Linked DNA regions of Homo sapiens. The protein of the gene in region 1 purifies or fractionates together with the protein of each later gene. This does not show direct contact. Each region holds a gene or a part of one and is shown on either strand. Other genes may lie near its edges.

Region 1 (7,091 bases):
CTGAGATTGTGCCACTGCACTCAAAAATATAATAATAAAAATAAAAATTCAAGGGGTGGGGGAGGTGTGAGAAGCTCCCAAAGCTGGTCTAGCCCAAGTACTGTGATGTCCATCAAGAATAAGCCACATTAGGAACCAGCTCAAAGAGGCTGTTGGTTTCTCTCTCTTGTCTCTTTGGTACACAGCACATCTGATTCATTCTTTTTTTTCTTAAGACGGAGTCTTGCTCTGTAATCCAGGCTGGAGCACAGTGGCACGATCTCAGCTTGCTGCAACCTCCACCTCCCGGGTTCAAGCGATTCTCCTGCCTCAGCATCCCAAGTAGCTGGGACTACAGGCATGCGCCATCACACCCAGCTAATTTTTTATTTTTAGTAGAGATGGGGTTTCACCATGTTGGCCAGGCTGGTCTCAAACTCCTAACCTCAGGTAATCCGCCTGCCTCAGCCTCCCAAAGTGATGGGATTACAGGCGTGAGCCATCGCGCCCAGCACTGATTCATTCTTTAACCCGAGAGCCATTCACTTTACCTTGTCCTTGTCCATGACAACACTGGCCACAGGTCCAAATGCTAGGAAGTACTCAGAGAGCTGAGCAGAATCCACATCCCTGGGAAAGCCACTGACAAACACACTTCGAAGTCCCTGGGCCTTTCTCGCAGCTCGTAGTTCTACCAGGTGCCGGTGCTTTCTGCCTCCCAAGTGGGCATCAAGGCTGGGTCCTGCAAAGACAAGTGTGAGACAAAAACATGCAAAGCACTCTTCGACGTGTCTGCCTTTGCTCTCTGCATACCTAAATCTTACTGATCCTTCCAAGCCACAGAAACTGTGACCTTTGAATAAACAAAGTCCTGGCTCCTTTCACCTTCCTCTCTTATACATTTGTCTAAATAGTACATTCTTTTTTTTTTAATTTATTTTTTTTAAACAGAGTCTCACTGTCGCCCCCGCTGGAGTTCAGTGGCGCAGTCTCCACTCACTGCAACGTCTGCCTCCCAGGTTCAAGAAATTCTCCTGCCTCAGCCTCGTGAGTAGGTGGGACTACAGGCGTGTGTCACCACACCCGGCTAATTTTTGTATTTTTAGTAGAGACGAGGGTTCCCAGGAGAACTGGCTACACTACAAGTATTTTGTTTATTTTTACTTAAAGAACAGTGTGATAGTAAAGTATTTCTTAAACCACCTATTTGTGCTAGGTAGAGTTGGAAACAAATTAACAGGTAACTTATCCAGGTCATCTACACAAGAACTAAAAAAATTTGGATCATGGAATACTTTGTGGATCATCTTTGGACATGGTATAATATAGTGATGTCAAAGGCAGGATCTGAAATTACATTGCCCAAGTTCAAATCCCAGCTCTGTCAACCTGTGTGAGACCTTGGTCAAGTTATGAAGCCTCACTGTGCATCAACTTCCTCAGATATAAAATGGAAATATCAGTATCTAGCACCTCACACACAGGTATTATTCAGATATATCACTTGGCAGAGAGAGTCTGGTACACGGTAAATGTTGAAAAACTAACCGTTGCTATTATTTTATTGAGTTAGCTGCTTGATGTCACCAAAGTAAATGTGGGGCCAAAGAAGACTCCTAGGTTTCTGGCTTGGCTTACTGGATGAACAGTGATAGTGCCATTCACAGTGAAAAGGAAGAATGGAAGTAAACCCTGTTTAGGGAACACTGTGATTCCAGACTTCAAAAGTAGGGCTGGGCACATTGGCTCACGCCTGTAATCCCAGCACTTTGGGAGGCCAAGATGGGAAGATCGCTTGAGGCCAGGAATTGGAGACCAGCCTAGGCAACATGGTGAAAACCCATCTCTACAAAAAACTAAAAAATTTGCCAAGTAGGCCGGGCGCGGTGGCTCAGGCCTGTAATCCCGGCACTTTGGGAGGCCGAGGCGGGCGGGTCACGAGGTCAGGAGATCGAGACCATCCTGACTAACATGGTGAAACCTCGTCTCTACTAAAAAATACAAAAAATTAGCCGGGCGTGGTGGCGGGTGCCTGTAGTCCCGGCTACACGGGAGGCTGAGGCAGGAGAATGGGGTGAACCCAGGAGGTGGAGCTTGCAGTGAGCCAAGATCGTGCCACTGCACTCCAGCCTGGGTGACAGAGTGAGACTCTGTCTCAAAAAAAAAAAAAAAAGAAAAAAGAAATTAGCCAAGTATGGTGGTGCACACCTGTAGACTCAACTACTTGGGAGGCTAGCCAGGGGTATGGTTTGAGCCCGGGAGGTTGAGGCTGCAGTGAGCCAAGATCACACCACCGCACTGCAGCCTGGGTGACAGAGCAAGACCTTGTCTCAAAAAAAAAAAAAAAGTGGAATTTGAAGTTACAGTGAACCCCTTGTGTGTCATACAAGAACCTTGTCTATTTTTCCAAACCCATCTTCTGTCTCTTCCTCACTGGTACCTTATGGTCTAGTCATTCATGCCACACCTATTTCATCCATCCCCTCCTTTGAGTAGGTCCTCTGTAGGGCTTCTCTGATTTAGTTACTAATTCTCTGTGGTCCCACAGTTCTCCGAACATATCTATAAAGCATTGAAACTTTCTCATTCTCTAGACGGTGAGCTCCTTCATCTCTGAACCCCCCTCCCCCACCCTAAAGATCAGCAGAATACCAGGCACAGAGCATATGTCCAATAGATGATGGTTAAAGAAGTAATAAAACAATTAAACTTGCGTTGTGGAGATTTCATATACTGAGGAGTGTAATGTGGTGGAACTTTCCCGACTCTCCAAATCCCCTCGGACTTGCAGAGAAAAACGGAGGTGAGAGACCCTACCAATCAACTTGACAAGAACGACTGACTACCTATAACCCTAACTTTCGCCAGGATCAAAAGACGAAAGCCCGCAACCACCCCCGGGTCCCTCACTAGCCACCGCTTACGGTTGGCTGTAGTAACGTGGCAGAGGCAGCAGCGGAACCCCCCACGCGGCAGCGATTCGACATCCGAATCCACCGCCGCCATAGCGACTCTCCTGTACCGACAAAAACACAAGCACCTCTGCCACCACCGGAACCCACTTCGCCAAAGCTCAACGCGCTCGGAAGCAACTTCCGCCGATCCGATAGGAAGTGACATAAAGTCGTTCAATTGCGCGGACACACTCCTCCGGAAACCAAGCTCCTTCGACTCTGGGTTCCGTTTCTAGCCGCTGTCCAGTCCCCGCCCGTTTCAGGAAAAGCGGCGCGTTACGATGCTTATCTGCATGCGGTAAGCCGATTGGTGTGCTTTAAGCTGTTCAGACGTTGATTGGCCCAAAGCATCGTGAATATTCATGACAGCAGCCACAAAGGCCGGCGCCGGGTGGCATCTTGCGGCAGCTCCTTCACCCCGCAGTAGACACCCGTGCGTCTGTACCCTCGACCCTTATTTACCCGACGAATAAAGGCGGAGGATCGGCGGCTTCCAATTCTTTGCCCCACGGAGCCCAGGGCTGTCCCTGGACTTCCAACCTTTTCAGGGCTGTTACTCCCTCCCTCCGCCCCCTGTCCTCCCGCAAAACGGGTGTTCTGCGACGGCTTCTAGCCCTGGTTGGGGAGCTCTGCCACCACCGGGCACCTTCCGGACTCCACGAGGTCCTGGAGCCAGGCCCATTCCTTCCGCAGTAGTGGGCTGCGTGGTGTACGCCGGAGGCGCCAGAGCTACTGGCGCACCTCAGAGCAGTGCGACAAGACAAAACCGAGTGCCAGTAACTGAGTTTAGACACTGGAGGGGGCGAATGCTGTCAACCCCCTCCTGGTATAATTGTCAGTTCATCCCAACGCCGCCGAGGTGTAGGCTCAGGACAGGGAGGGACTACGGGGAGCTGGGGATGCCCTAGGGACAGGGACCATAACGAGGTGGAGAGAACTATCAGATGGGCTCAGCAGCTTGTGCTGTGGTTATCAGCCCACAGCTTTGAATGGCGCAAAGAGCAGTGGACCTAAGGCAGACACCAAGGTCTTTGACCTTGAACAAGTCACAACTGTTGAGGCCGTTTCCCATCTCTAAAGGAAGTGCCCAAGGAGCACACAGCAGGCTGAACTTCTTGTTCTCTATCCTAAGGTGTTCCTTCTAATGGGCCCAGCTCAGGCATCTAATCTCAGTGTCCCAAACCTTTAAGGCAGGAAACAGTGCTACAGTGGATCGGGATATCATCGAGACTGGCCTTGAGGATCCTGAAGCAGCAGGCTGTACACATACACCCAGAGGTGCTAGGGTGGTTCAGTGGTAGAATTCTCGTCTGCCAAATACACCACACAGCTAGGTGAGGGGATCCTCCTATAACCCCACCACCACCCCCAAGGGGGTATACATGTTACCCTGGCTGCTAGCAACTTCCAGAATTCCTTAAACAAAAGGGAGAGGGGAGTAAGAGGTGGGAAACAGAGGAAGAAACACCCCCATTCCCCTTTCCTATGGAGGCCACCAGTCATCCAGAAAGCTCATCTCAACTCCTTTGAATGAATCTGGGCCAAGATGGTTCTTGAGCTCCAGCACCACTGGGAGCTGGGGAGCAGTTTGGGTCCCACAAGAAGCCTAGCTGGAGCAAGCCGCCTGGGTCCAGGCTGCCTATCTCATAAAGCTGTTCCCAGGGCAAGAACCATCTGTACCTCCTTTGTTGTCCTTTGTCCTTTATTTTCCCTCTCAAAGACACCCCCAACACACACACAACACACACCCATGGCAAAGAACAGCTGAGCCAGGAGAAGCTGAAGAAAACAGCTTTTTATTTGTTACTATAAGAACCAATTACAGAATCCGAGGTTAAAAAAACGGACAAAAGATCTTTATTTCTGAGAACTGGCGTACAAAAGGCAGAGGGGGAGGGGAGGGAAGGAAAGAGCGAGCGTGGCCTGGGGTTGATGCCAGCTTAGGGGCCTCAAACTCCAATTAGGAAAGTCCGGACACCGGACAGAAAGAGAAACCCCCAATTAGGAAAAAAAAAAAAAAAAAAAAAAAAAAAGACATGGCAGTGCACGCCCCCCTCCCCCAACCAGGTACCACCACCTGTTATCTGTTTACTCTTCCCCTCCCCATCCCCTTTCACAAAGGGAGGCAAAATTTTTAAAAAATTAAAAAACCCTCCCCCCAAAACTGTCCAAGACATCTGTGGGTCCTACCCCCCAAAACAGGCTAGGTTCCCACATGGGCCAAGTTCCTGCAGTCTGTCCTCCATCGGCAAGCATGGAGGCATGAGACAAGTCTCGAGGTGGTAACACCAGAGGGCGCCCAACCCCTCCAGGGACACACACTCACTTGCTCTCTTCCTTAATTCACTCCTCACTCCCTTCGACACGAAAGGGAAGGGAGGTTTGGGTGCCCTGGGCATCCACCCTCTACCTCTCAGCCCACCTCCCTTCCCCACAGGTGCTCAGTCCTCCAGGACAATAGGCTCATTGGTGCTGGCAGGATGTGAGGGTGCAGGTAGAGGGACAGGGGGCCGCACTGCAATCAGCGTTGGCTTCACCTTCAGGGGCAAGTTGGGTCGGCGAGCAGCTCGCCGCATTTCCAGATGGGTCAGAGCCTTCCGTAGGGCCCTGGCCAGAAAGAGCAAGTGGGAAACAGAAAAGGCTTAGAGAACATTAAGACCTCCAGGTGAAGCCCCACACTGCAATTATGCCTTCTGGCCCATTCTTTTCTGGCATCCCCACCCTGCATCCACAACTTTCCTGGAGCTCTTGCTCTGATACTCCTACTCCCCACACTCACCAGCCTGGACTGTCCCTCTCAGCCCCTCCCATGGTAGACGCCTTACCTGGTATCCTTTGTGGCCACAAACACCACAGGATTGGGGGCATCAGCTGGGTTTAGTTTCTGACGCTTGGCTGCTGGCTGTGAGCTTGAACGAATCCCTGAAGCCAGAGGCCTTCCATTGGCAGAGAAAGGAACCCCTGCCCCTGCCATCTGGAAAAGGGGTAGGATGGCACAATGAGGGAAGGGACCCTCTCAGACTCCTATGAGAGACAAAAGCCCACCCAACTCAATCTGGCCCACCCCTTTCTGTCAACTCACAGTCTCATAGGCCCGTTTCACCATAATGCCCCCCAGTCCCCGGTTCTGGGACAGCTGGTTTCTGTTGATCGGTGTCTTGGTACCCCGAGGTGTTTTTGGTTTCAGGGGTGCCTGGGCCACTGGAAAAAAACAGAAAACTTTCGCACCTTTTCTTCCCACGCAGTTCCCCTTTGTTACTTCCATCTCTCTTCCCTGGACCAGCAGTTTACCTGGGCATCCCCAAAAGTAGCAATGGGGGAATGTTCTGGCAAGCTATCACTAGTATTTCAAATATCAGTATGACCTTATCAAATCAGTACAGTAATACTGAATAGTTTACAAAAAAAATTATTAAACAACAAAAGTACAGTTTGTTAGACTAAATCTCTGAGGACACTATGAGGAAGAAAAAAAGCAAGGGGAGAGATGTCAGACAGGGAAAGGACTGGGAGCCTGATGCCAACCTCACTGGTCCCCATCCCATACCCAGATCTTTGACGATAGTTGCCAGGGGCAGCCGCACCAGAGGGTGAATCTTCAATGGAGTCTTGGCGGCCTTAGGAAGTCGAATGGAGCCTGGAGAACAAAGAAGAAAGCTTCTGAAGGGCTTCACCATTCAGGTCTCCTCTAAGGCCAGAAGCCAACTCTAATCTTAAAAAAATTATCTGTGGCCTACTATCCCTCCTGTTATTAGACATCCAGAGAAACAACGGTCTCTGGGCAGAGCAATCCGAAACCCACCACCAGTCCCACCACTCCCTGCCCTTACACTCTGCTTTGATGGCATTGGCATTGATAGGAGCATAAGGCCGTCGGGCGGCCCTCCTTGGCTGTAATAGGTCCCTGCACATGCGTCTGGCAAGACGGGTCAGCTTTGTGGTCTGAAGCAGGAAAGTTTGTCTGTTCTTAGCCAGTAGCTTGGCCCTGTTGGCGCTGGTTGTGTAAGGAGAGAGACTTTGAGCTTCAGGTCTGGATAAATGACCCCTTGAGTGTGGCTCCTAGAAGAAGAGCATAGGAAAGAGAGAGAGCAGAAATCAGCACTGAGGCTCCCTTCTTTCTTCCATTCCCTGCAGGGGACAATTTATTCCTGTCTAATC
Region 2 (7,000 bases), on another chromosome or scaffold:
AAAACAAAAAAAAAACAGTATGACTTTCTTAGAAAACTATAAATCTCCTGACTGGAAGCAGGCAGGTGATCCTCACAATCATCAAACTTAAAATTTAAAAATCCAGACCAAAAAAAAAAAATCATGAAACAATTATGTACCTTAAAAGATTTGCTAAAGATATGTCATTCCTTAGCTATATAGAATTAATATATACACAGAGACATACACACAGAAGCATGTCACAAGTTCTCTTTTTTAAAAACTCCAAAATCAGCCCAAATGTGAGACATATTTTATGTTCAAGACAGGGTCTCACTCTATCATATAGGCTAGATGCAGTGGCACAATTGTGGCTCACTGTAGTCTCGAACTCCTGAGCTCAAGCAATCCTCCTGCCTCAGCCTTCTAAGCTGAGATTACAGGTGCATGCCACCATGCCGACTAGGTTTCTGACAGGGTGTCCCTATAATCAGGCTGATGTAGAGCTCCTGGCCTCAAGCAATTCTCCCACCTCAGCCTCCCAAAGTGCTGGGATTACAGGCGTGAGTCACTGCCCCCAGCTGACATATATTTTAAATGGTTAAAAATATAAAAGGTTCCACAGACCCACTTAGTTTTAGAAGGGGGGAAAAAAACCAAAAGACATGAAAACTAGAAGGATGACAAATTCAGGAAGAAATCAAAAAAGCACATGCTTTTTTTACCTCATGAGGTGGCAAGGGTTCCAAAGTAGGAATGATCTCACTTTCTTCACCTGTTTCTTTTTCATCATCTCCGAACAGACTTTTCATGGCCTTTTGTTGTGCTATAACGCTAGAATCTGAGGGAGCTTCCACTTGCATCTCTGAGTCTTCTCCATCATCCTTTAGTTCTCCTTCTTCTAAAATAACCCCTGTGTCCACTTTGGAAACTCTCATATCTAAGACACCATCTATCCAAGCTAATTCAGCATCTTTTGCCTTACAAAACTGAAGAGAGCTGACAAGTGAGTCTTTTAACCTCACCTAGACATGCAAAGGAGGGGGAGAGAAATAAAACCCACAGAATACATATTAACAAATTAAATATAACCTATTATCATTTTCTACCTCTGGTAATATGTTAAAATTGGAAAATCTTTCACTCATCTGAGTCCCACAATGACCTGCAATGACCTCATTACCTGCAGATCATTGGGCCCCTGCCTACTTTCCAAAATAGAGATTCTTAACCCTGACTACAAAATGGAATCACATGGCAATTAAAACAAAAAGTATATCAGAGCGTCATATCCAGTGTTTCTAACATAACTGGTAAGATTAAGACCAGAAAAACTGAGTCCCTCTGACCCTCACGAAGCTCCCCAGATGATTCTTATGTGCAGTCAAGGTTGAGAACCACTGATCACTCCCATCCTCTAGTACTTGGCATACTTCAGTAGGTACTGAACTGCTTGTCCTTTCCTGAATATACCACAGAATTTCACATCTCCATATTCTTGGAAGGTTGCTTCTTCTTACTCTGCCCAGAATAAATTTCCTGCCTGGTATGTGCACATCCATTTCTTCCAGATATAGACATCACTCTGGCCTTAAACTGACACCATCTCCCATTACCAGACAAAATTTATCTCTCTACTGTGCTAGTCCTATATTTGGTATCCATCTCCATTTGTTCCAATTAGGAGTAGAACCTTGATATCCGGGAATTCTTCTAAAACTTTTGAATTCTTAATCATTTTCCTCACCTCTGTACTTTTGCAAATATGGTTCCCTCTGCCTAGAACGCTCTTCCCCCCCTTTCCTACTCTGTCTGTCCTGACAACCCATCTAAACATCAGTTAGGATTAGTTATCACTTCCTGTAGGAAACCTTTTCTAAACCTCTAAATGTGGGTGGTTTCCCCTCTTGATACTCTCATAGCATCCTGTACTTCTTCTCTCAGTGGCACAACAACATGATAAATGGTATTTCCTTGTTCTAAGCCCCATACCCTATGAGGTCTGCTAGGGCAGGAGACCATCCATGTCTGTCTCACACATCTCGGTATTTCTAATGTTATCTGTCCTAACCTGCAACAAAAAGTACTTATTTCTACTCAATGGCAACTCCTGGCATGTTTACCTGGTAGATGTGAGTTTCACTAGTGGCATCAACTGTTTCATGTAGCTTTGGCATGTACACTTTAATATCTTTCCCACCAAAGGCGCGACAGCACTCTGCCAGATCTTGACTGGCCTCTGGTGGGCCATGGACGATGATCAACTGTCGTGGTTTCATCTGATTAATGATTTTTTTAATGGAATCCCCATCAGAGCGTCCTTCATAGTCTATGTAGGTAACCCGGGCTCTGTAATTAGATATGATTATTCAAGATTACTTTTCTCATAATTCTAAAAAAAAATGGCTTTTATCATGTATACAATATATAACACTAGGATTTGAGAAATACACATGTTATAGTATCTGTATGATTTATTTTATTTTTGTTTTTATTTTTCTGAGATTGGGTCTCGCTCTTTTGCCCAGGCTAGAGTGCAGTAGCATGATCTTCGCTCATTGCAACCTCTACCTCCCAGGTTCAAGTGATTCTCCTGACTCAGCCTCCCAAGTAACTGGGATTATAGGCATGCACCACCACGCAGGGATAATTTTGCATTTTCAGTAGAGATGAGATTTCACCATGTTGGCCAGGCTGGTCTCAAACTCCTGATCTCGAGTGATCAGCCTATCTCGGCCTACCAAAGTGCTGGGATTACAGGCATCAGCCACCGTGCCCGGCCCTATCTGTATTATTTAGATTTTATCTACACCCAAAAATATATACTAAATGATATTACTGGACAAATAAAAAACTTTGTTCTCTGATGACTTAAAAGAAATTCCAAAATGATCACTTACTGGTATTATTTAACTAAGTAGAAAGCGGGAGAAAAAAGGTTTCTAACTACTTCAGATCACAACAGTATTTTCCAGACATTAGGGTCTTAGAGATGTTTAAGTTAAGGAGTATATTTTATGAAACAAGCAGTTACTCAGAAAAATTAAACTGTGAGTCACATTATTCCCTTTCACCTGCTTACAGAATAAAAAGGCCAAAAATAATTTTTCTTCATATAAATGTACAATTTAATGTTACAATTTAAGCACCCCCCACCACCACCAATTCAATTACTTTGGCATTCAAATACCATTAATGAAGAGAAAATATCATGCCACCATACTTCACAAGTCTCTTCATACAAAAATAAATTTTAAAAGCACAAACTTACTAAAGAATATTCAGAAATTTTGCTTGACATAATGTAAATTATATAATTCAAATGCTTGAAATTTTATCTTATAATCTATTTTCAAAATGTCACAAAAGCACTTACTTTATTTCAATAGACTCTGTTGTAGAAATACATTTAGTAGGAACATCAGATAAATCCTGATCCATAGGTTCATCTCCATTTGTCAAACCAGATTCTAATTTGCTTTTTTCTTCTTCAGTAGCTTGAAGCTCTGGCACTAAGAAATCCTCTGGTCTAAATAATAAGTCTCTAATTAGAAGCAGTAAAAAGCAAGCTAATACTACATAACATATATGACTAGTAGGTGGCATAATTTTTGGAGTCCTCACATATCTCAAGATTTAAATATACATTTCATCCAAAGCTGATGCAATTTCATATCAATTACCAGATGGCTGTATGTATTGCGTTTTTTGGTTTTTTTTGAGGTAGAGTCTCCCTCTGTCACCCAGGCTGGAGTGTGGTGGCGCCATCTCGGCTCACTGCAACCTCCGCCTCCCTGTTCAAGCAATTCTCTGCCTCAGCCCCCAGAGTAGCTAGGATTACAGGTGCCTGCCATCACGCCCGGCTAATTTTTTTGTATTTTTAGTGGAGATGTGGTTTCACCATCTTGGCCAGGCTGGTCCTGAACTCCTGACCTCATGATCCACCTGCCTCGGCCTCCCAAAGTGCTGGGATTACAGGCGTGAGCCACCACACCTGGCCTGTATCATGTTTTTCTTTTTTTATTTTCCACACAGGATAGTAGTGTTTTCAAATTTGCAATTACAACATGTGATTGCAGTTGTTTTTCTAATAGTCAGTATAGATTTTGTAGATTTTTCCATGATTTCACTCATGCTATCTCACATTCCTCTTAATCTCATAAAACTTGTATAATACTTAAGACATAATCCATTGGAAATGCAATCACCAGCCATCCAAAGTTCTTTTTTTTTTTTTAAAGATAGAGATGGGGGTCTCACTATATTGCCTGGGCTGGTCTCAAACTCCTGAGCTCAAGTGATCCTCCCATCTCGGCCTCCCAAAGTGTTGGGATTACAGGCATGAGCCACCACACACAGCCCCAAAGTTCTTCCTATCCTACATCTTCCTCTCTTTTTAAGTGGGGGAAAAAAGTCTTGATCACGTGATCATGTTTTTAAACCTTTACACAACTAAGTCATAAACTGCCAGTTTTCTCTCAATATTCTCTAGATGTTTCTCAGCATCTCTATTTTTATGTTTCAAGTTACAAGTCTTCTGTGTCTTCAGGCTGAGGTACTCAGAAGCTAACCCCATACATGTGACTAGAAAGATCAAGTGAAAGATCAAATTCACTGAAATGAAATGATAACACAGTTAATACCTCCAATTTGTAAGAGAGAAAAGTTTGTTTTGCTCACATACTTGATAATCTCTCCATATTCATCCCATTTAATTCTTTCTTCTGGGGCAGGAAACATAGGATAGGACTTTTTTGCCTGTTTGAAAAAACTTCCTTTACGACTGCCTTCACCTTTCATCATCAAGTCATGCTTCGTCTTATGAGCTGATGGCTGGTCAATATCTTCCTCAATATCACTCTCATCACTGGAATCTATATCTGCCCTAGGAGGATTTTAGAATAGATCAAGGTCATAAAGTTTCAAAGATATTTTAAATTAATATTTATCAATTTATTACTGAATCCATACTCAATATTATTAATTCAATATTAAATGATAATATACAGTTATGTCGGTCAACAACAATAGACCACATATACAACAGAGGTCCCATAAGATTACTGTACCTTTTCTATGTTTAGATACATTTAGATACACAAATACTTAACATTGTGTTACAATGGCCTACAGTATTCAGTACAGTAACATGCTGTACAGGTTTGTAGCCTAGGAACAATGGGCCATATCATATACTCTGGATACACAGTAGGCTATACCATCAAGGTTTGTGTAAACATATATCCTAATGTTTGCACAATGACTAAATCCCCTAACGACACTTTTCTCAGAACTGTCCCCATCATTAAGTGATGCATGACTGGAATAACATTCAACTTTATTGGACTGACATTTTATAAAACATAACAAATAAATGCATAATAATATTAGCACTGACAGGATCTGGTATTCTAGACATTTGAAAGATGTCTGTAACAAAATTAAGTCTTACGAAAATTTAAAAATATTTTCAATGAAACATTTAAGTCAAGGACACATTCTTCTCAAATTGCATCCATAAATTTATAATCTGTCTGAAAATGACTCACTCTTTTGACTGCTCAAGCTTTTTGGCAGCTTCTTTCTTTAGTTTCTCTTTTTCCAAGTATTCTTCAAGTTCTTTCCCTTCAAGCTTCACACGTTTCCTCAACTAAAAAAAAATAAAAGACAAAAGGAAATGTTAATATGTTAATATTAGGGGGTTAAAGCAGTGGGATATGAGATACATCACATCTCTAAATTGCTCTATCATCTTTAAACTGATTGTTTCCTCTGAAATTAATCAAGTTTCCATTACATACAATTATAGGTCCTATTTAGATTAGTATTAAAATTGAGCTGTCACACATCATCTAGAATGGGTTTAATTTAAATCAAACTGGTTGGCCAGGCACAGTAGCTCACACCTATAATCCTAGCACTGTGGGAGGACTGCTTGAGGCCAGGAGTTCAAGACCAGCCTGGGCAACATAGGTTGACTCTGTCTCTAGGAATAATTTAAAAATTAGCTGGGAGGCTGGGCACGGTGGCTCACACCTATAATCCTAGCACTTTGCAAGGCAGGAAAATCACTTGAGTTTGAGACTAGCCTGGGCAACATAATGAGACTTTGTCTCCACATAAAAAAAAAAAAAAAAAAAAGCCAGGAGTGGTGGCATGTGCCTGTTGTCCCCGCTACTCAGGTGGTTAAAGTGGAAGATCACTTGAGCCTGGGAGGTCAAGGCTGCAGTGAGCTGTGCTCACACCACTGTACTCCAGCCTGGGTGACAAAGCAATACTCTGTCTCAGAAAAAAAAAAAAAAAAGCCAGTAGTGGTAGCATGCACCTGTAGTCCCAGCTACTCAGAGACTGAGTATCACTTGAGTCTGAGACTGAGGATCACTTCAGTCTGACAGAGCAAGACCCTGTCTCAATCAACCAAACAATCAAACTGGTTAAAAATCACCAATCAGGAAAAGAAAATACAGATAAGCATTTTTATAATTTGGAGTAGGTGAGGCCCAAAAGCCATAATGGGAAACATAAATAAATACAGCAACATGAATAAAGAAAAACTCCCTTTGACATTTTAAATCTCAAAATAAGAAACTGAAAAGAAAAACAAAAAAGAAACAGAAAAATATTTTCAGCACTACGACCAATAAAAATGATTTTTTCCTAAGAGCTCTTCCAAATTAGTTAAGAAAAGGATGATCAACACATGAAAAAGCACAAGATACTTAAAAAGGCAATTTACAAAATAAGAAAGACAAATAACTACTGGCCATGAAAAGATCCTTAATTTTACTAATTTTTGAAAAGCACAAAATATAAAAAACATAATTGTTTTCATCTATGAGATTGGCAATGCCATACATGGGGAAAGAGTACCTTCTTCCATTATCTGTTGGAAAATTAGTGCAACTATGTTAAAAGGCAATTTGCTAACATCTAAAAATAAAATTTGACATTTGACACAGTATTTCTACTTCTAGGAATTTATCCTACTGAAACAATCACAAATGTGTAAAAAAAAAGTACATTCGTACATTGCAGCAAT
Region 3 (7,000 bases), on another chromosome or scaffold:
AGTTGAAGCGGACATATTAATATCACATAACGTACACTTCAGAGCAAAGAAAATTACTAGAGATAAAAAGGATTATATAATGACACATAATAATAAATAGATCAATCTACCAGGAAGACATAACAATCCTAAATGTGTAGGAACCAAAGAGCGCTTGAAAATTCATGAAGCAAAAACTATTACAGAGCTCAAAGAGACACAGCAGCAATTACATTTGGCAACTTCAACATCTCCCTTTTCAGCAACTGATAAAACTACTAGACACTTGAATATGTTGAACCTGGTCAAAAAGAAGATGAATAAAAGAAAAAGAAAATTAGACAAAAGCAAATTAAAAAATTTTTAAGTTTTTAAAAAGAAAGGAAATTGTTTAATTTTTTTTTAAACTAGGCAGAACAGGGTTATAGAAGAACTCAATAACGCCGTCAACGAACATGACCTAATTTATATAGAGAACAGCCCACCCAACAATACAGAATATGTATTTTTCTCAAGTACTTACGGAACATTCACTGAAGCCATATCCTTGGCCATAAAACAAACCTCAACAATTTAAGAGAAATGAAAACCATGCAGAGTATGTTTTGTGACCACAATGGAATCAAATTAGAAACCACTAACAGTAAGAAAATCTCTGAACACGTGAAAATTAAGTAATACACTTCTAAATAATCTGCAGGTCAAAGAGGAAGTCTCCAAGAAAATTTACAAATTAAAAAAAGTGAATGAAAATGAAATTGCAACAAATCAAAATAAGTAGGATGCTACTAAAACAGTACGGAGGAAAATTTAAAGAACTAAATTCAGTGTATAAGAAGAATTATACACCATGACCAAGTGGTATTTATTCCAGGTTTGCAAGGCTAATTCAACATTTAAAAATCAATTACTGTAATCCAGTGTATCAAAAGGCTAAAGAAAACTCATGGTATCAATAGATGCAGAAAATGCATGTGACAAAATCCAACAACGATTCATGGTTAAAACACTCAGCATGTTAGGAATAGAGGGAAACAACCTCAACCTGATAAAGAGCATCTATAAAAAATCTATCCCATAAGTTGGGATATAGGGTTACCTTAACATCATTCCTAATGGTAAAAGATTGAACACTTTCCTCCTAAAATCAAGAACAAGGCAAGGATGTCTGCTCTCACCACTCTTTTCCAACAAAGTCCTATAAGTTCTAGCCTGTTCAATAAGACAAGGAAAAGAAATAAAAGCTATACAGCTCGGAAAAATAAAACTGTCCTGATTTGTAGATGATATGGCTAAGTAGACAATCTTAAGGAACCAATTAAAAAAAAAAAAAACTCCAAAAATAGTGAACTGAGCAAGGTCACAGAATATAAGATAAACATACAAAAACAAAAAAAAAAACAAAAGAACATGTGGAAACCAAATTTAAAGACATAGCACCATTTACAATCACTCCAAAAAACCTAAATAATTAGGTGTATATTTAAAAAGTTTACAAAATCTGTATGCTGAAAATTACAAAATGCTGAGGAAAGAAATCAAAGACCTAAAAAAAGAGACACTTCATGTTCATGGATTGAAAAACTCAACATAGTCAAGAAGTAAATTCTCCCTAAACTGACTTACAGGCTTACTGAAACTCCAATTAAAATCCCAACAAGGTTTTTTGTAGACCTAGACAAGCTTATTCTAAAATGTATATGGGATGGCAGAGGCCCTAGAATAGCTAAAAATGATCTTGAAAAAGAATAAAGTGGGAGTAATCACTCTACCTGATTGATACTAAAACCTACAATACAGCTACAATCATCAAGGCAGTGTGAGAATGGCAGAAAGATACATAGATGAAGAGAATAGAACCCAGTAACAGACCCACACAAATATGCCCAAATAATTTTTGACAAACGCAATGCAACAGAGGAAAAAAAAAGGCATTTTCAAAAAATGATGCTGGAGCAAATGGATATCCACAGGCAAAACAAATAAATACACCTTGACCTAAACTTCACGCCTTACAGAAATAACTCAAAATGGATCACACTTAAATGTGAAATGTAAATATAACATCACAAAATGTTAGGACAAGAGAAAAATTTCAAGGCAACATCAAGGATCCTTAAGGTGACAGAACTGATCTGTATCTTGACTATATCAATGTCAATACCCAGGTTATTACATATTATAGTTCCTCAAAGTGTTATCATTGAGGGAAACTGGGTAAAAAGTACACGAAAAATCTCTATTATTTCTTACAAGTGCATGGAAATCTACAATTATCTCAAAATAAAAAGGCGAATTGTTTAAAAAGCTTTTGTTGGGATATAGGGATAATTTAAGTCTGTACACCAAGACTTCATTAGTATCTACTCTTCCAACATCTGCCACATTTTAGGAATATTTCCCTCTCCAGAGATAAAAGATTACCTACACTTCATTCAAATTACACTCTACCATCTGACAACATACCCTAATAATCCAGGTACTAGATATTTAATTAAAATACAGAAAGACAGCCAATGAATATGATTACTTGAACTTTAGGATAAAAATCTTAACAATGAAGTAGCCAGTGAACCTTTAAATGGAGTGGGGACAAGGACCAACCATTCAGAGAATACAAATATGAAGGATTACGGGGTTTTGTTCAAGTGTTTAGATTTTAAACAAGAACTCATTATCTTTCTCTACTAATTATAATAGTAAAACCCTTCCATGGCTTCCCAGTATCCTAGGAACAATTTGCAAATCCCTGCCTCATGTGCAATCCCAGCATGCTGGGCTCATCTCTCCAGCTACATCTCAAACCACCGGCCTCTCAACATGGCAGCCAGCTTCGTGTAACTCAAACATTCCAACGTCTCTCCAACCTCAGGGCTAGGCACCTGCTGCTCCTTCAGCCCAGAAGGATCTCTCACCTTCTCTCTGCCTAGCCACCCCTTTTCATACTTCAGGTATAAACTTCACTTCCTCAGAGGGCGCCCCCGGCCCCCCTCCTATGCCACTCTTTCTTAAGTAGCCCCCTATATGCTGCAAGCTGTTTTCCATCTCATCATCGTGTTTATTTCCATCATGACCTAAAGGCTTCATGGGATAAGTACCTTGTATGTCTTATCCTTGACTTGGTTAGATTCTTTACCTACCTGGCACACAGAATTCAATAAATTACATGTCAATCTCACTCAAGAGCATTAATACAAAAATCCTAAATAAAATATTAAAAAATCAGAAATGTATAAAGAGAACAATACATAATGATCAATTTGGGTCTATCCCAGGAATGCAAGGGTGTTTTTACACTACAAAATCATCCAGTATAATTTTTCCACCATCAGATTTGAGGGAAAAAAACATGATTACCTCAATGAAGAAATAGCATTTGATTAAAACATCCATTCATGAGTCAAAATTAAGAATTAGCAAACTAGGAATAGAAAGGCACTTCCTTAACCTGATTTTTAAAATCTGCAATAAATATATTTTAATAACATATTTATATATTTATTATATTGTTTATTATATATTTATATATTTATATTTAGTAAATTTAATAATACATTAAAATTCCTTTTAAAAAACACAAAAAACTTCCCAGTATTGCCTTCTATTTAACCCTGTACTGGAGGTCTGGGGTTTTAACAATGAGACAAGGAAAAGAAACAGATATAGAGAAAAGAATGAGAACTGTTAATTATGGTCAGATGATATCAATGTATAGTAAACCAAAACTCATCTACAAACAAATCATTTGGAAATAATAAACAAGATTAGCAAAGTGACAAGCAATAAGAGCAATGTATAAAAATCAATTATATACAAAGAGACAAATACTGTATGATTCCACTTATATGAAGTATCTAGTCAAATTCATAGAGACAGAAAACTACAATGGTAGTTATCAGGGGATTGGGAAGGAAGGAGAAGGAGAGCTGTTTAATTGGTAGAGTTGTATATATGCAAATGAAAACTTTGGAGATCTGCTTCACAACAATGTGACTATACTTAACACTACTGAACCATACACTTAAGAATAAGATAGCAAAGTTTACGTTATATGTTTTTTACAATAAAAAAATTACATTTCTATAAACCAGCAAGCTTTAAAATGTAATTTTAAATAGGATAGCATAAACATCAAGCACTATAAAGTACCTAGAAATACATCTAACAAAAGATGTGTGAGACCTCTATGGCAAAATGTTTTTAAACTTGATTGAAAGATATTAAAGACTTGGCCGGGGGCGGTGGCTCACACCTGTAATCCCAGCACTGTGGGAGGCCGAGGCAGGCAGATCACTTGAGTCCAGGAATTCAAGACCAGCCTGGGCAACAGGGCAAAACCCCGTCTCTACAAAAACTGTAAAAATTAGCTGAGTCTGGTGGCACATGCCTGTGGTCCCAGCTACTCGAAAGGCTGAGGTGAAAGGATCGCTTCAGCCCAGCAGGCGGAGGTTGCAGTGTGCTGAGATCATGCCACTGTACTCCAGCCTGGGAAACAGAGCAGGACCATGTCTCAAAAATAGAAAGAATATTCAATACCTAGACGAATGGAGTTATATGCATGTTCTGGGTTAGAATAATCATTATGGCAAAGACGTCAATTCTCCCCTAAATAATCCATAAATTCAATGCAATTCAAATAAAAAAACCAACAGGGTTTTTCACAGACCTTGACAAAATAATTCTAAAATTTATATGAAAGAGCCAAAACACCCTGCAAGGAAAGAAAAAAAGCAGGTAGGAGGATTTGTCTTACCAGATAGCAAGCCTTAGCAATAAGTTAATCAGTGGAATTGGCACAGGATAGACAAACTGAAGAGAGAGCCCAAAACAGACCCATGCAGTTGAAAAACACTATGGCTCAGGTGGCACTTGCTGTTTCAGCTAAAATAAATTCACAACCTATGACTATGACCCCCAGGTTGAAAAACAGTGACTTTGAGAAACTCTCTTTTTTTTTTTTTGAGTCAGGGTCTCACTCTTACCCAGGCTGGAGTGCCGTGGCAGTCACAAATCACTGCAGCCTCAAATTCCCAGGCTCAAGTGATCCTCCCGCCTCAGCCTCTTGAGTAGCTGCTACTACAAGCTCATGCCACCACACATAGCTAAATGTTTTAAATTTATTTTTTGTAAACACAGGGTCTCACCATCTTGCCCAGTCTGGTCTCAAACTCCTGGGCTCAAGGGATCATCCTGCCTCAGCCTCCCAAAATGCTAGGACTACAGGTGTGAGCCACTGCATCTGGTGAGAAACTCTTGTACATGATGTGAACTGCTTTGTATTTATCAAATTACATGCCAAAAGATAATAATCAATTACAGATAAGAACATGATCTCTAAGTTTTAAATCTTAAGACTTTTAGCAATGTTCTCCTGCTTATGATTCATAAAACCTGAGAAGCTGAACTCATCCGATGATCACACGATAGGCTGAAAAGCACTGGACCAGATCAGGACACAAGTGTTCTAATCCCCACTTGTTCTGTTTCCTCATCTGTACCATGAAAGAGCTGGGCTAAAGCTCTGGTTCTTAAATGGGCTATCATGACACACTGATGTTTCAAAATCACCTATCAAGTGTGTCACACAAAGTAACCGCAGTTTGGGATGTTTGAGAAGTGAAGTTTGAGAAGGATACACTTTCTTCATTAAAGAACATTCAAGGCTCTCCCCACCACATCACCAGTCTGAACTCAATAGAGTGTGCTTGCGGAGCACAAACAGGAGTGGGAGAGCACTTGCTAGTCAGTGTCACGAATATCTATGCATGCAAGTGCCCCTCACATGAACACCATGTGTGGATCAGCAGAAGAAAAAGGTATAAAAGTCGCTAAAGTCAAGAAGCTGACTTTTAAGGTGTGGCTTTTGGTGTAAACTTCTGATTTTTAGGGTAAAATGATGAAGATACTATATGTGGACAAGTACTCTGAAAGTACATATATTAAATACATACTGAAATGCACTTAAAAGAGCTATTTCCACATAGTTCAATCTATACTGATAAATGAGTACATATGCTGGTCTATTCTGGTCTTAGAACATCATTAATGACATAGTTTTTTTTTTTTTTTTTTTTTTTTTGAGGTGGAATCTTGCTCTGTCACCCAGGCTGGAGTGCAGTGGTGTGATCTCAGTTCACTGCAACCTCTGCCTCCCGGGTTCAGGCGATTCTCCTGCCTCAGCCTCCCGAGTAGCTGGGATTAACAACATAGATGCTTTAAAGGAAACTTAACCAATCACAAAATGATCTGCTAACTGATTTAACTCCCTAGCAATGTGAAAAATGTGTTATACCTAGCTGTACTAGAATGGGGGAGAAATAATAGAGAGGACTGATGGAAAGAAAACAACTGGTGCAATCAAAGGCAGGGAAGGGAGAATGGAGCAGCACCTATTATGCGCCAAACTGTGCCAGGCGCTTTACGCACATTGTGCCATGCCCCACAACAGTCCCATGAGGAAAGCACTATTACAACCTTCATTTTACTAACTGGGACACCCAAGACTCTGCGAGCTGAAATAACTTGTACAAGGCCTTTCCACTACTCAATGGAAGGCTTGGGTTCAGGGTTGCAAAGCCATAGTCTCCGTACTGCTGCACTGACAAATCTGCCGAAGCCACCATGAAGTGCCACTTTTAATTTCAGCGCACAAACACATATAATGGAAAATATTTGCTTTTGTTAGACAGATACCACAGCAAACTGCCAGCTACCATAAAATATAATCAAGGCCACGTGCAGTAGCTTGCGCCTGTGATCCGAGCACTTTGGGAGGCTGAGGCAGGAGCATCACTTCAGCTCAGGAATTCAGCACCTGCCTGGGCAACATAGTAAGAACCCATCTCTACAAAAAAAAAATATTTTTAATTAGCCAGGCATGGGGGTGCATGCCTGTAGTCCGAGATACTTTGGAGGATGAGCTGGGAGGATCACTTGAGCCTGGGAGGTCCTAGCTGCAGTGAGCCATGATCACACCACTACTCCAGCATGGGCAAGAGTGAGATGCTCTCAAAAAAAAAAA

What was found. The genes of interacting proteins can lie anywhere in the genome.
Region 2: the proteins of TUT1 (region 1) and CPSF2 purify together in Homo sapiens (co-immunoprecipitation; 2 studies listed by IntAct, with this or other methods). This does not show direct contact.
Region 3: the proteins of TUT1 (region 1) and SART3 purify together in Homo sapiens (co-immunoprecipitation; 5 studies listed by BioGRID and IntAct, with this or other methods). This does not show direct contact.

Annotation. Positions count from the first base shown.
Region 1 is NC_000011.10:62,588,501-62,595,591, forward strand, and holds the start of TUT1 (speckle targeted PIP5K1A-regulated poly(A) polymerase), read right to left. Parts: upstream 3,024-7,091; 5' UTR 2,986-3,023; coding exon 2,904-2,985; intron 722-2,903; coding exon 531-721; intron 1-530. Other genes in the region: metastasis-associated protein MTA2, read right to left, coding at 5,375-5,540, 5,759-5,907, 6,016-6,134, 6,481-6,570, 6,764-6,992. UniProt on the Homo sapiens protein: Poly(A) polymerase that creates the 3'-poly(A) tail of specific pre-mRNAs. Localizes to nuclear speckles together with PIP5K1A and mediates polyadenylation of a select set of mRNAs, such as HMOX1.
Region 2 is NC_000014.9:92,152,969-92,159,968, reverse strand, and holds part of CPSF2 (cleavage and polyadenylation specificity factor subunit 2), read right to left. Parts: intron 5,612-7,000; coding exon 5,511-5,611; intron 4,847-5,510; coding exon 4,646-4,846; intron 3,491-4,645; coding exon 3,338-3,490; intron 2,311-3,337; coding exon 2,085-2,310; intron 987-2,084; coding exon 687-986; intron 1-686. UniProt on the Homo sapiens protein: Component of the cleavage and polyadenylation specificity factor (CPSF) complex that play a key role in pre-mRNA 3'-end formation, recognizing the AAUAAA signal sequence and interacting with poly(A) polymerase and other factors to bring about cleavage and poly(A) addition.
Region 3 is NC_000012.12:108,551,174-108,558,173, forward strand, and holds part of SART3 (spliceosome associated factor 3, U4/U6 recycling protein), read right to left. Parts: intron 1-7,000. UniProt on the Homo sapiens protein: U6 snRNP-binding protein that functions as a recycling factor of the splicing machinery. Promotes the initial reassembly of U4 and U6 snRNPs following their ejection from the spliceosome during its maturation.